Regions from separate parts of the Homo sapiens genome. Here region 1 is linked to region 2. Evidence: fine-mapped expression QTL. A gene starts in region 2. The other region holds a variant in brackets. All regions are shown on one strand. Distances are from middle to middle. Region 1 overlaps LINC01768 (long intergenic non-protein coding RNA 1768). Region 2 holds the start of CSF1 (colony stimulating factor 1).

What was found. PIP is the estimated chance that this variant, and not a neighbour inherited with it, causes the effect.
Region 1: its variant is fine-mapped to the expression of CSF1 in whole blood (TOPMed, PIP above 0.99).

What each region holds. Positions count from the first base shown.
Region 1 is chr1:109,851,979-109,855,978 of GRCh38, forward strand. All of the region lies in intron 4 of LINC01768 (long intergenic non-protein coding RNA 1768), which reads left to right. Among named protein-coding and RNA genes, the nearest start is that of LINC01768, 26 kb to the left of the region's middle. The variant A/G (reference allele first, on the strand shown) is at 2,205.
Region 2 is chr1:109,908,541-109,913,046 of GRCh38, forward strand. It overlaps CSF1 (colony stimulating factor 1), which reads left to right and starts at 2,309. Exons shown (of 9, transcript NM_000757.6): 1 at 2,309-2,522. The coding sequence starts at 2,484. RefSeq lists silencers at 2,403-2,572, 2,623-2,732 and enhancers at 2,518-3,018, 3,019-3,519, 3,596-3,695.

The DNA of each region.
Region 1 (4,000 bases), 57 kb before region 2:
AGAAGGAAAACTAACAAATAGAAAGGAAGAAAGGAATAGCATCAACATCATCAAAAAGGACATCCACACCAAAACCCCATCTGTGGGTCACCAGCATCAAAGAAAAAAGGTAGATAAAACCACAAAGATGGGGAGAAACCAGAGCAGAGAAGCTGAAAATTCTAAACACCAGAGTGCCTCTTCTTCTCCAAAGGATTGCAGCTCCTTGCCAGCAATGGAACAAAGCTGGATGGAGAATGACTTTGATGAGCTGATGTTACCTGGGGGTCCTTGTTCTTAGAGCTCCCAAGATGGTGGCAGGCCGCTTCCAAGATGGCAGCCAGCCTCTTGTTCTCTAACCTGGGGTTCTTGGCCTCATGGATTCCAAGGAATGGAATCTTGGGCCATGCAGAGAGTGTTATAGCTTTATTAGAAGCTGTGGGTCACAAAAGAGAACCATAGAACCCAGCGACTAGTGTTCAGCTAGATTAGGAAGAACCCAGGCACTCAGCCATGCAGGAACAATGGCAAGCCTTTAGCCCGATCAGGAGCAGCAATGGGTGAGTCACTGGATCAGGAGTGCAGCCAACACCCTGCCGGATCCAGAGGGGCGGAAGTCAGTGGCGGGTCTGCAATGGCGACAAACAGCAGTGGTGGACAGTGAGAGAAAGCTCAGCTCAAGCTGTTACAAACACGGACCAGAAGAATGTTCAGTTGCAAGATGTAATAGAGTGAAAACAGAGCTCCCACACAATGGAAGGGGACCCAAAGGGGGTTGCCATTGCTGGCTCAAATGCCTGGGTTTATATCCCAATCATTGTCTCTCAGGTGATAGATGATTGGCTATTTCTTTACCTCCTGTTTTGCCTAATTAGCATTTTAGTGAGCGCTCTTTGCTACCTGATTGGTTGGGTGTGAGCTAAGTTGCAGGCCCCGTGTTTAAAGGTGGATGCGGCACCCTCCCAGCTAGGCTTAGGGATTCTTAGTCGGCCTAGGAAATCCAGCTAGTCCTGTCTCTCAGTCCCCCCTCTCAACAGGAAAACCCCAGTGCTGTTGGGGAGGTTGGCCGACGACTGCTCTGCTTCCTGCTGAATTGGGGCATAGTAGGGATCGTGCAGTTGAGATTTCCTCAGGAGGGGGGCCTTCAATGTCATCAACATTGGAGCATGGGCTAGCAAGCCGGTCCAGGGGTCCGCAGTAGATCTTAGTCATGGACTGCATCTGGGGTTCCATTTGAAGAATGATTTGTAGTTTTACAGCTTCGATTCTGGAAGAAACAAACTTAACAGGGAGGTTAAAGATACAGGGATTGAAATGTATGGCCGGCAGTGCAGGGGGTTATTTCTTTGGCACACTTCACAGGCCCTGACTATCTGCTTGATAGTTTTGAAAAGGCCTGGTCCAGTAAATAATAATTTGGCCATCTGGTGGGTGCTATCAATGCCTAAGTGAAAGGTCTGGTGAAGGGTTTTAAGCAATTTCCATTGGTTCGCTGCCGGCAAAAGTGTTATTCCTTCTTCGGTGGCTAGCCATCCTGAGGGGAGGAAACTATGTCCTTGTGAGGTTCCCCATTCTATTTCTCCTGCTGAGTACTGGAGCTTAGTTTCCCAGAGGGGATTACCCCATACTAGGGTCCTTCTATAAGCATTTCTAATGGAGGGTCCTGCCTTGTGGCTGTTGATGGGCTTCAATATCCGCTTGGTGGTTCTCTTCCATTTCCCTTTACTTTCCTTTCTGATGACCCCGGCAGTGTAAGACTGCCACATCTTTAGGTTTCTGTACAGTGAATAATAATCTCCTAATGGCTTCCTGATGTTTGATAGGTGTTCCCTCAGAAGTTAGGAATTCCCTTTCTCTCCATATTGCTGTGTGGGCATGGAGGAGTAGGTAAGCATATTAGAGTCTGTATACATATTTCCCCTTTTTCCTTCTAATTCTGGTGCCCCAGTGAGGGCTATTAGTTCTGCCAGCCGAGCGCTAGTTCCTGGAGTGAGGGGATTACTTTCAAGTATTCCATTATCACTGACCACTGCATACCCCACTTTTCAAAGTCCTTTTTCTACAAAGGAATTTCCATCAGTATACAAGTTGAGGTCGGGATCAGTCAAGGGAACCTCTAGAAGGTCCCCTTGAGTGGCGTATGTTTGAGCAATCACCTGTTGACAGTTATGTTCTATCTTTTCTTCATTGTCTGGAAGAAGTGTGGCTGGGTTAAGAGTTGCACA[A/G]GAGAGAAGTTCTCAGCACTGGCCCTTCAAGTAATACAGCCTGATATTTAAGCAAACAGTTGTCTGACAGCCACAAGTCTTCTTTAGCAGTGAGTATGCTGTTTACATCATTAGATGTCCACACAGTCATATCTCTTCCCTGTATTATTTTACCTGCTTCAGATACTAAGACTGCTACTGCTGCCACTACCTGTAAACAATGAGGCCAACCCTTTGCCACTAAATCAATTTCCTTACTCAGGTATGCCACAGGTTGCAAGCTGTTCCCTTGGACCTGTGTAAAGACTCCTAGAGCTATTCCTGTTTTTTTCTGTGACATATAAAGAAAAGTCTTGCCCTGTTGGCAAGCTTAACACTGGGGCTTGGGTTAGGGCCTTCTTTAGGGCCTGGAAAGCTGCTTCTGCTTCAGGTGTACATCTTACTAAATGGATATTGGCTTTCTGAGTTTCCTTAATGAGTGCATATAATGGCCTGGCTATTTCGCCGTACCTGGGAATCCATATTCAGCAAAAGGCTGTTATGCCAAGGAACCCTCTTAGTTGCTTTAGGGTTTTGGGATGAGGATAAGCCAGTATAGGCTGGATACATTCCTCACTGAGGGCCCTGGTGCCTTTGGATAATTTTAGCCCTAAGTATTTCTGCTGTGAGCAGAGCTGAGCCTTTTGTTTGGAAGCCTTGTAGCCACAGGTGGCAAGGAAATTTAAGAGTGCTTGGGTGGCTTGATGGCACAAGGTTTCTGAACGGGTGGCTAAAAGTAAATCATCCATGTACCAAAAGATGAGAGTGTTCAGGTATGAAAACTGGCTCAAGTCTTGGGCTAATGCCTGGCCAAATAGATGGGGGCTATCCTTGAACCCTTGGGGTAAAACAGTCCAGGTGAGTTGAGATGTTGGGTTCGAAGGATCTTCAAAAGCAAACAAGAATTGAGAGTCAGGATGTACAGGGATGCAGAAAAAGGCATCCTTAAGGTCCAAGACTGTAAACCACTCTGCTTCCTCTGGTATTTGGGAAAGCAGAGTATAAGGGTTAGGTACAGTGGGTATAGAGAGACAACGGCCTCACTGATAATCCTGAGATCTTGCACTAAACTCCACTGTCTGTTGGGTTTCTGTACTCCTAAAATTGGAGTATTGCAGGGGCTGTTGCACGGTTTTAGTAGGCCTTGGGCTTTTAGGTCCTTAACAATCTTTTGGAGTCCTTGTTGGGCCTCGGGTCTAAGAGGGTACTGCCTTTGGTAGGGAAAGGAGGTGGAATCCTTTAGTTTAACTTGAACAGGACAGGCATTCTTTACTCATCCATATTGTCCTTCTGTTGTCCAGACTTCAGGATTAATTCCTTCCTCAAGCAGGGGACAACAAACGGGTGTTCCTTCTCCTATGTTCAGGTGTACAATGGCCCCTGCTTTTGCTAGAATGTCTCTCCGTAACAAGAGAGTGGTGCTTTCAGGCATAATTAGAAAAGCATGTGAAAAGAGTAAAGTTCCCCAGTCACACCTTAGTGGCTGGGAGAAGTATCTAGTGACTGGCTGTCCTAGGACCCCTTGGCTAGTGACAGATCTGGAGGACAGTTGTATAGGACAGGAAAGTAAGATTGAGAAGGCCATGCCAGTGTCCAGGAGACAGTTAACCTCCTGGCCCTCAATGGTCAAGCATACCTGGAGCTCTGTGAGGGTGATGGTATGGGCAGGCACTTGCCCCGGGCACCCTCAGTCCTGCTGCTGGATCATCAGGTTAGTGGCTTCTGATTCAAACGACCTTCATTCCTTGGGGCAGTGGGCCTTCCAATGATTCCCTTGA
Region 2 (4,506 bases):
GCCCTAGGGACTCCCATATGTCAGCCCATTTGACCTCATGACCACTCCTTTGGGGAAAGTCTTAAAATTGCCACTGTACAAATGAGGAAAGAGAGGCCCAAAAGGCTAAGGGGTTACACAGCAAAGTTACACAGCAAATGAATGGCAGAGCTGGGACTAAAATCTGGCCTTGGGACTCCCAAGTCCACTGCACCATTGTGGTGTCATTGCTTTAGAACCCATGTGAGTGAACAGATAATAATAACAATAGCACTTACTGTCTTCAGGCCCTGTGCTAAATACTTCACAGGCCTTATCTCATTCAATACTCATAACACCTTGGTCAGAGAGAGAAATTAACATCTCTATTTTATAGACATGGGAACTGAGAGAAGTTTGTCCAATGTCACACAGCAAATGACTTGGCAGAGCTACCAAGGTCAAATCACTTGTAAGTAGTGGAGTCAGGTTCAAACCAGGGTATGTAAAGAACTCCAGTGCGGGGAATGAGGACCTCAGGCCTTGCACCAACGTGGAGAATGATTACGTTCCTCCAGAAGCTGAGCAAAGTCCAAATGCCAGCCTCAGTGAACCTGGGCCAGGGCTGGGTTGGTGAAGGAAGGAGCAAGTAAAACTGGACCCCTTTCTCAACAAGTCTGTTGGTTTATCTTTCTCAGGTTACTTCCTCTAACCTTTTATCAGTCTTAAGAACTGTGGTGTCAACATGTTATCTGAAATCATTATTGTACAGTGACCATGTCATTGTTGTATCCCCAGGGCCCAGCACGGTGCCTAGCATCTGGTAGCACATATTTGTCAAAAGAACAAAGTATTCTCTAATGGCATCATTCAACTCAGCCATCATTAACTTGGTACCTATTATGTGCTAGGTACCATTGATCCAGAGGTGACTGAGCATGGGTGCCACCTGGAAGAAGTCTCGGTCTAGGGTGGGGACAGAATGTAACCATCGGTACCACCTTAAACACTTCGAAAAGTACTGTGGAGAATGAATGGATGGCAAATGACTTATCAGAGCCAGCATTGAGGAATGAGCCAAGTCCAATGGGAACACAGGAAAAGGACCCTTTGCTCTGCCAGGAGAGTCACAGAAGGCTTTGCTGGTGGAGGATGAGATGCAATTTCAGCCTGAAATGATGAGGAGTTTGTCTTCAGCCATGTGGAGAAAGGAGCATTCCAGGCAGAGGGACCAGTCTGAGCAAAGGCATTCGGGTGTAAAATTATTGCCTAGGATTGGAGTGAAGGATATGTAGCGCTACTGACAAGAGACTCCTCTTCAAGAGCAGGCCACATATCCTTTATTTCCCAGGGGGTGGAAACGGGCAACCTCACAGAGGAATTGAATCATAATGAATTGAAGAAAGAAAAATCTCCTGAAGTTGGCATTATAATTAATAGGCTTAGGCTCATCCTACTAGTCCTCACTTAGACTCATTCTCATGTAGAAACAAAACGTGATTAATCACCTCAGTAAGTGCAATTTCCAAAAACATCCAGGGAAATCTAGGGTCCAGGTGCAGGACCTTTCCAATCTGAGTTGGATTTTGCCTCCAGGAGAGAGCATGGGTACCAGCCAGCATTTTCATCATCTAAGGGTCAGGTGCCTTGAAGTGTCTGCTGGCACCCAGGGAAGAGCCCCCCAGCTTGCTGTCACAGGACACAGCTGCTCCCTTCCTGGCCAGGTAGCTGGCCTCCCTCCCAGAATGGGACTTGAAGCTGGCCGGGCTGCTTGGGGGCTGCAGAGGAAGAAGGGGGCTGCCGGCAAACCTGCTGACTCAGGCTCCACGAGGGAGCAAGTAACACTGGACTCCTTTCGGCACTCCGAGAATGGGGTGGGGGCGTCTTCAAAGGATTTCCCTCCCTTCCCAGTGCTTGTCCCTGCTCTCGGTCCGTTTTCTGCTAAGATTTGGGGATTTTCAGGCCTGGAGGGAAAGTCCCTTGGGACGATCATAGAGCGCTAGCACTGAATCAGCCTGGAGAGCGCGGAAGGAAAGGGTCGGTCCGCAGAGGGCGCGGGGAAGGCAGGGTGGGGACGCGGTGGAGCCCGCGCTCGTTTGCTGAAGGCTTGGAAGTGCAGCGCAGAAGACAGAGGGTGACTAGGAAGACGCGCGAGCGGGGCTGGCCGGCCGGCGGGTGGGGGAGGGGAGGCGGGGGAAGGCGGCTGAGTGGGCCTCTGGAGTGTGTGTGTCTGTGTCAGTGTGTGTGTGTGTGTGTGTATGTGTGTGTCTGGCGCCTGGCCAGGGTGATTTCCCATAAACCACATGCCCCCCAGTCCTCTCTTAAAAGGCTGTGCCGAGGGCTGGCCAGTGAGGCTCGGCCCGGGGAAAGTGAAAGTTTGCCTGGGTCCTCTCGGCGCCAGAGCCGCTCTCCGCATCCCAGGACAGCGGTGCGGCCCTCGGCCGGGGCGCCCACTCCGCAGCAGCCAGCGAGCGAGCGAGCGAGCGAGGGCGGCCGACGCGCCCGGCCGGGACCCAGCTGCCCGTATGACCGCGCCGGGCGCCGCCGGGCGCTGCCCTCCCACGGTAAGCGACGGCCGCGGCGCTGGGCCCGGGACGGGCTGGGGCGGGGGCTCGGCGGCCAGGCGGCCGGGAGCGGCCCCTCGGAGCCGACAGCCTGGGCGCGCCGGCTGCACTGGCCCGGCGTTCCCGCCGCGGACGAACCGCCTTTGCGCACGGACTGGGCCCTGGCGCCAGGGCGGAGGCCGGTGGCGGCCCTGCAGCTGCACCGGGACTGCCAGGCTTCCCTGGGAAACGGAGGGCTGCTCACCCCATTGCACGGAGGGGAACACTGAGCCACCTGCAGGCAGGAGCCCCCGCTCAGCCAGGGTGCCCTGCCTCTCTCCCTACCCGCCACCACCAAGGCACGGGCGGAGTGGCTGTGCGCTGAGTGTGTGCCCTCCCCGGTGGGCACCTTCCTCATCGGCCACACACGTGCTTCCAAGGCCCTGCTGAGGAGTGGGCGCTTCTGGGCAGGGAAAGTTCAGGGGGTCAACCAGCTTATAGAACGCCAGGGACTTGCTGGCAGAGGGACGGAGAGGGGCAAGCCACTGCTTGTTCCAGCCCACAGGCAGGAGCTACGGAGGACTTGGGTGGCTGTTTGGGGGGTGGGGTGGGGGACGGCAACAGCCGGCAAACAGCCCCCCACCCCCGGGGCTGCTTGGGGCTAGCTCAGAATCTCTTTTTCTTGCAAATTCTGGTTTCATCGGTTGGGGAGATTCTGGGCTTTGTGGTGGTTTATGGTGGTTTGCAGTGCTTGAGGAAAATGGAAAGAGGGTTTGGTGTTGCAGAGCTGTGTCCAGGGGCAGGGTCTGCTCCTGACTGCGTAAGGGACGCCCTGCCCCAACTGTGGCGGTAGCAGATGCAGCCATAGAAAGTGAGGGTGGCACTGTTCATGACCAGTCAGTGGGCTCATAATAGATTTGCTTCTGAGGAGTCCTGGAAGAAAATGAGAGGGGAAACCTGGGGGGAAAAGAGCAGAAAATTATTTGGGGGTAGAGGAGAGCGGGCTGCAGGTGAGGTGAGAGAGAAAGGGAAGAGTGGGTCCACAGAAAGAAAGTGCCTCACTGAGAGAGAGGAGATAGAGTTGAGAGGGGAAGGGAGAAGGGTTAGCCATAGGCAGAAAGCAAAGCTTCGGGGCTGAAGGGGAGACCATGAGGAAAGAAGAGAAAGACAAGGGGGCTGTGTTTAGACAGGGGAAGTCCAAGGGCCCGGTTCTGCCAGGTCTCTCCAGAGGCCTTGTTGAGGGGGAAGATGAAATGGAATAGGATAGGTGGCAGAGGAGGCTGGACAGCTGGACTGAGGTGTCCTAGCATCTCTGAGCCTGCAGCAGAGATTCCTTCTGAGGGCTGCTCCCCAGGCAGAAGCCAGGGCTAGGGGTGGGAGGAAGAGGCAGTCAGAGGAGAGCCTGCCCAGCCAGATGCAAGCCAGAGTGTTAACCCCCCACTGTCTGTCCAGATCCTCCTGAGGCAGAATGGAGGCCCCAGGTCCAGGGGTATCCCCTTTGGCCAGCTTCGAAGTCAGCCTCTCATGTAGTGGCTGCACTTTCCCCACACTGATGCCTCAAATGTCATCAAAGCCAGACAGCCCTTGGGGTTAAGCATTGCTCCCACCTTGCTCTCCTCCAGGGAGGTTGTCTTCCTGAGCGGTCCCTTTCATCCATACCATTCACTCCAGACCTTGAGTGGCAGCCAGTCTGGGGTAGATACACCGTCTAGTGGCCCAGTTTCCTCCAATCATTCCTGAACCTAAGGTTTCTGAGTACCTGGGCCATTATTCCCACCCAGGGCAACCTCCCCAACAGAGCCTGAAGTCCCCCCAGCCCCCGTGACTGCCGTCCCCCTCTTCCACACTTTCCCTCCCTCAGATCAGCCAGGATCCTCACAGTCCCTGTGCTGAGTGGTATGAAACTATCCTTTGGCTCTTCCTTCCATGGCTCCCACCCCTCTCCTGCCATCACCTTCTCCCCATCTTTCAAGGCCTCACTGAGGTCCCTGCTCTCTGCAGTCTC